2 separate regions of the Homo sapiens genome follow, and region 2 is linked to region 1. The links come from fine-mapping of genetic effects on gene expression. A gene starts in region 1. The other region holds a variant in brackets. All regions are shown on one strand. Distances are from middle to middle.

What was found.
Region 2: its variant is fine-mapped to the expression of MAK in whole blood (TOPMed, PIP above 0.99).

Annotation. Positions count from the first base shown.
Region 1 is chr6:10,836,940-10,839,853 of GRCh38, reverse strand. MAK (male germ cell associated kinase) reads left to right here and starts at 1,315. Exons shown (of 15, transcript NM_001242957.3): 1 at 1,315-1,351. RefSeq lists enhancers at 633-792, 843-902 and a silencer at 1,123-1,252.
Region 2 is chr6:10,784,125-10,787,038 of GRCh38, reverse strand. It overlaps MAK (male germ cell associated kinase), which reads left to right. Exons shown (of 15, transcript NM_001242957.3): 11 at 2,467-2,615. Among named protein-coding and RNA genes, the nearest start is that of TMEM14B, 38 kb to the right of the region's middle. The variant A/G (reference allele first, on the strand shown) is at 1,456.

The DNA.
Region 1 (2,914 bases):
CTCACCTGGGCCTCCCAAAGTGCTGGGATTACAGGCATGAGCCACTGAGCCCCGTCTGTTTTTAAATGTTTATTTCAATAGCTCTTGGGGTACAAGTGGTTTTTTGTTACATAGATGAATTATATAGTGGTGAATTCTGAGATTTTAGTGCACCCATCATCTGAGTAGTGTATATGGTACCTAGTGCATAGTTTTTTTTATCCCTAGGCTCTCTCCCATCCTCCCCTTTCTGAGTCTCCAAAGTCCATTATTTCACTGTGTATGCCTTTGCATACTCATAGCTTGGCTTTTGCTTATAAGTGAGAACATACAGTTTTTGGTTTTCCACGCCTGTATTACTTTGCGTAGAATAAGGACCTCCCACTCTTCCAAGTTGTTGCAAAAGACATTATTTCATTCTTTTTTTGTGACTGAGTAGCAGCCTATGGTGTATATATACCACATTTTCTTTATCCACTCATTAGTCAATGGGCACTTAGATTGGTTCCACATCTTTGCAATTGTGAATTGTGCTGCCATAAACATACGCGTGAAAGCCTACTTCACTTTAAGCTGTGAGGGCCACAGGCATGTCTGTCGTGTCTACCTTGGCGCTATTCTTGGTCCCAAGCCCACATCCTGACACCTAATAATTACTAACTTGCCGCACCACTGCTTCATCACTTATGTTTCTGTTTCGTAGACCCTTTTTGCCAGCCAATCTGAACTATTTGCAGTAACACAAGTGTGCCTTCCTCTCTAAATTCTAGACTAGTTACAATTTACCCATTTATTCACACATTCAGTCATTTTTCTTGGAATTACCACTATCTAACTCTGTGGCTGATACTAGGCAGGTTCTCTGAATGAATAAATGGAAACAAACTTAGAAGGGCAGCTCAAGAGGTAATACATACCCAAGGAATTGACCAATTTAAGGAACTGCATACAAGAACAGTTTTTCCCCAGGCACAAGTAAACAAGTGCAAGTATGAGGCAAACAGACTTCCTTCTCTTGCTCTGCCCGGTCTGGGAACCATATTTTAATTAATCAAGACTTTGTAGAATGAATCGGAACAAAACCAAAACAAAATAAAGGGCAAACAAACCAACTTCTGACAAAGACCTGACTGAAAAGGTAATCAACTCCCCTAAACCCCAAGTCTAAATGGCACACTTGCTGCAGCTCAGCCGACAGTCCCCCGGCTCCATGAAGCCCCGCCCCGGGGAAGGCGGGGCCTGCGGGAATTGGCGGGGATTTCCCGCGAGGCCACGCCCTCTCTGGGCCGGCCGTAGGCCCGCCTGCTGCCCCCGCCGTTTCCTAGGAGATGAAACACACAAGACGCCGGAGCTTCACAAGGGAGCGAACGAGGTAAGCAGCAGGCGCGGACAGGTAATCCCCAGCGGGCTGCAGGGCCACCACCCTCTGTCCGACCCAGCCGGAGCCCGACCTGCGAGGCTGGCCGGGCATGTCCCCTCGGCGCCCTGTGCTACCAGGGCCAATCTCCGCCCGGAGACCGGTCCCTGACGCCGGTAGGGGAAGGACTGGAGGGAGGAGGGTCCCCGGAGGGGCGGAGCGGGCGGGAGTGGTCAGCCCGAGGGAAGGCGGTCGGTGTCTCCCAGACCTCTTGACCACTTTCCCGCCTCCTGGACCGCGGGGGCCGGCCTGGCGTGGGAGGATGACGGCCGGGCGTCCCTTAGCCTGAGACCCCCGCCCCTAAACTCTCCTCCGGGATCTCCCACCTCTGCTCCCCTGCTGCTTGGGCTGGCGGTGGAAACTGTTTTTAGGACAGAGAGGCAGGATTGGGTCTCAGGGAGGCAGCGGAACTGAGTTCAGAACTGTTGCAAAATCTAAAAGGAGGGAGAAAAACAGGAATTAGGTCCGACTCCAGCCCTCGCTGGTGCATCCCAAAGGACGCTCAGGTGAAAGTGGAATTCCGCACACCCCCGTCCCCCCCAACGGCGCCGGACTCCCGGCGCCCGGGGACGCCCCCTCCTTCCACCACGCGGTCCCTGGAGCCTTTTAAGAGCCCTGGTTTGCAGAGTCGGATCAGAAAGTGTGTGACGAAAACTGTCCCTTTTCTGCAAGTAATCCGTTTTAATTTAGGGACAGGTCGAGAGTGCGGTGTCGAGAGCAATAAAACTGGTTTTTAGTGGTTAGTAATCTCAATCCTACAAGGAAAGAGCTGTATGCAAATGTGGTTAGATAATCGTTTAAAAGAAACAGACATTTGTTCTAATGATAACGGAATTCTCAAAGAGGGAAGCCAAAGTTATCTGACTTTATTTATTCAGAAACACAACCCATTAAGTGAAATAATGGTGAAAACAAAAGTGACTTTCCAGCTTTTCGATCGGGCCCCGCCTCCCCGGCCCTTCAATTCCCGAGGCTTGACCGGGAGGGAGAAAGTTCCCCCAACCGCGCCACCGCCTGCTTCCACTGCAGGCACCGGGCAGGACGTTTAATCTCTTCGTCGGGGTGGACTTTTTTTGTGTATAAGCTTTGAAATAATTTGTGAATATGAGCACAGAGAACTGTGCTTTTATATTTTAAGATACAGTCTTTGTTTTCCCATTGTAATAGCTCATTTAATTTCTGTAAAACTTCGACTTGGTTAGTTTGGGATCTTTTTTTCCTGCGTTGCTTTTTAAAGAGTTTGGTGACTTTTAAAACGTTAATTACTCTTTTGTTGTGTATTAGAAGCGTTAAGCCAGCCTCGGAGTGACATAATATGTTCTAGAAAGCCACGTTGAAGACATCCAAGCCTTATCTCTTCAGTTTTTGGCAGACGCTTGTTTTACCCTTCATTTGCCCTCTTTGCTAATCTTCTTTAATCCTATCTGAATCTCTTATTAGCTGGCAAAAGCTGTTGAGAGTAAAGGCTATATTTACAACAATTGTGCACTTAGAGAAACGGTAATTATGAACTTAGAT
Region 2 (2,914 bases), 53 kb after region 1:
AGTGGTGAATAGGAGGTGAACTGGTGCATTAGCGGAGTGGTGAATAGGAGGTGAACTGGTGCATTAGCGGAGTGGTGAATAGGAGGTGAACTGGTGCATTAGCGGAGTGGTGAATAGGAGGTGAACTGGTGAATTAGCGGAGTGGTGAATAGGAGGTGAACTGGTGAATTAGCGGAGTGGTGAATAGGAGGTGAACTGGTGAATTAGCGGAGTGGTGAATAGGAGGTGAACTGGTGAATTAGTGGAGTGGTGAATAGGAGGTGAACTGGTGCATTAGTGGAGTGGTGAATAGGAGGTGAACTGGTGCATTAGTGGAGTGGTGAATAGGAGGTGAACTGGTGCATTAGTGGAGTGGTGAATAGGAGGTGAACTGGTGAATTAGTGGAGTGGTGAATAGGAGGTGAACTGGTGCATTAGTGGAGTGGTGAATAGGAGGTGAACTGGTGAATTAGTGGAGTGGTGAATAGGAGGTGAACTGGTGAATTAGTGGAGTGGTGAATAGGAGGTGAACTGGTGAATTAGTGGAGTGGTGAATAGGAGGTGAACTGGTGCATTAGTGGAGTGGTGAATAGGAGGTGAACTGGTGCATTAGTGGAGTGGTGAATAGGAGGTGAACTGGTGCATTAGTGGAGTGGTGAATAGGAGGTGAACTGGTGCATTGAACAGACCCTGCCATCCCCTGCTTGGTCTCTCAGGCAGCCAGGGCCTCCCCATAAAGAATACAGAGTACCAAATACTAACATGTATACCTTTTATTTAATGGTTGTCTTATTTTTTAAATTATTATTATGATTGAGATGGAGCTTTGCTCTTGTCGCCCAGGCTGAGTGCAGTGGTGCGATCTTGGCTCACTGCAACCTCTGCCTCCCGGGTTCAAGTGATCCTCCTGTCTCAGCCTCCCAAGTAGCTGGGATTACAGGTGGCCGCCACCATGCCCAGCTAATTTTTGTATTTTTAGTAGAGACAGGGTTTCACCATGTTGGCCAGGCTGGTCTCAAACTCCTGATCTCAGGTGATCCACCTGCCTTTGCCTCTCAAAGTGCTAGAATTACAGGCGTGAGCCACTGCACCCAGCCTGGTTGTCTTCTTAAAAGTGAACAAAAAGCAAGATATTTATATTTAGATTTATACTTGTATTTATATTCAGTAGATGTTTACTAAATACCTAGTTGGAATTAAGCCTCTCTTCAACTCATCAAATATATGGCAACAGAAATAAGACCTCCAGAGGACTATAACACATGACAAGTGTGTGCATTTAGTGCCACTAGTGACAGCTGCAAGGAGCTCTGGGAGTTCTGTCTATGGGCAGAGATCCCTCTGATGAGGACAGAAAAGTCTTTTTAGAGTGAGTAGTTTTGGGAATGGGTAGAATTTCAGTTAGTGATATAACAGCAGTGGGCTCAGGGGAAGGGAAAGTTGCCAGAAATGGCGGGACTGTTCCCATTGAAGCAG[A/G]CGCACCTGTGCCTAGAACTGCCCCCAAGCAGGTGGCCAGCAGTTCAAAGGGCCACCCAAGTGAGTATCCATTTCCAAGGGAGCCAACTTGGTGAGTAGGGTTTGGTAGCATGAATTTCTAGGTGGAAACCATGGATGCTTGGAGTTAACAAGTGATGGAAATTGGGCAGTATATTCAGGCCCCAGCAAAGAAGGAGCCCAGTCGGAGGGTGGTGGGGAGAAGGTTGGTCGTGGAGGGCTCATTACAGCACACAGAGGGATGGGCAGCAACACAAAGCAATGGCCGCCTCACGCACTGCTGCCTGGTCAAACAGGCCTCAGGGACAGGCCTCGGGAATGAGACAGAACTAAGCCTCGAAGCAGAAAGTCCTCAGTCCGTACACAGAAACAGGACTGTGGGAGTTAGGGACCAACAGGCAGAGAGTCAGTCTTAATACTAACAAACACCACTAAACAGCTAGCGAGGTGCTTAGCCACTGCACAAGTCTGTTCTGGCTGAGACACAGGCATGTCTCCACAAATACCTATTTTCTGTGCCTGACACTAGGGTGACGGGAAATTGTATACGGGAGCTTTTCTAGCACTTCTTTCCCCATTTCAGTTTTTTAGGCCATCCAAACCATGCCCCAAACAACCTCATTGATTGTAAATTATTTTAGTCAACAGGTGAAGATGGCTGTTATTTCCCTCTCAGCACACCAGTTTCCCACGTTATGAATCCAACTGCAGCCGTTGCAGGACAGATAGAAACATGTTACACACAAGTAAATTGCTGCTCAGTTATAAAGGTTCCTGTCACATACTGGTATCAGAAATGAGTCTGTGCACGACCCAATATCTACGCGGGTGGAGGGGAAGTTGTCACTTAGCCAAAAGACTGATGGAAACCATTTAAGTGAGGTCAGATTGACTGGCTTAGGAAGATGTGCAGAGGGTGGGCGAGATGTGCAGAGGGTGGGCGAGATCCTCTCGTTGTTCGTGCTGTAATGCTACCTTTCATTGGCTTTCAAGGCTTCCAGAGCCAGTACCCTCAGGCTCCAACCACTCGACAGGGGAAAACAAGAGCTTACCTGCTGTTACTTCCCTAAAATCTGATTCCGAATTGTCAACTGCTCCAACCTCTAAACAGTACTACTTGAAACAATCAAGATATCTTCCAGGTAAGTAGAGCAAAGAAAATGTTTGCTGCTAACTAGAGTATAGATAGGTCAGGTTCAAGTGTCTTGGAATCTCCAAAGAAAGGGCAGCAGTGAAGCAAAAAATCTAATCACAGAGCTCTTTGGTAGCTCAGTCTGTCGCCAAGGACTTTTCTGGACCTCCTGTTTCTACCACTAGTAGAATTCTGCTCAAGAAATGCTTAGGAGCAAAAATCAAGATGATGAATATGCTTCCAGAAAACACCAACCCCCACCCCCCACCAAAGCTATGCATTCAGTAAATCCTAAATTTTATTAAGCCA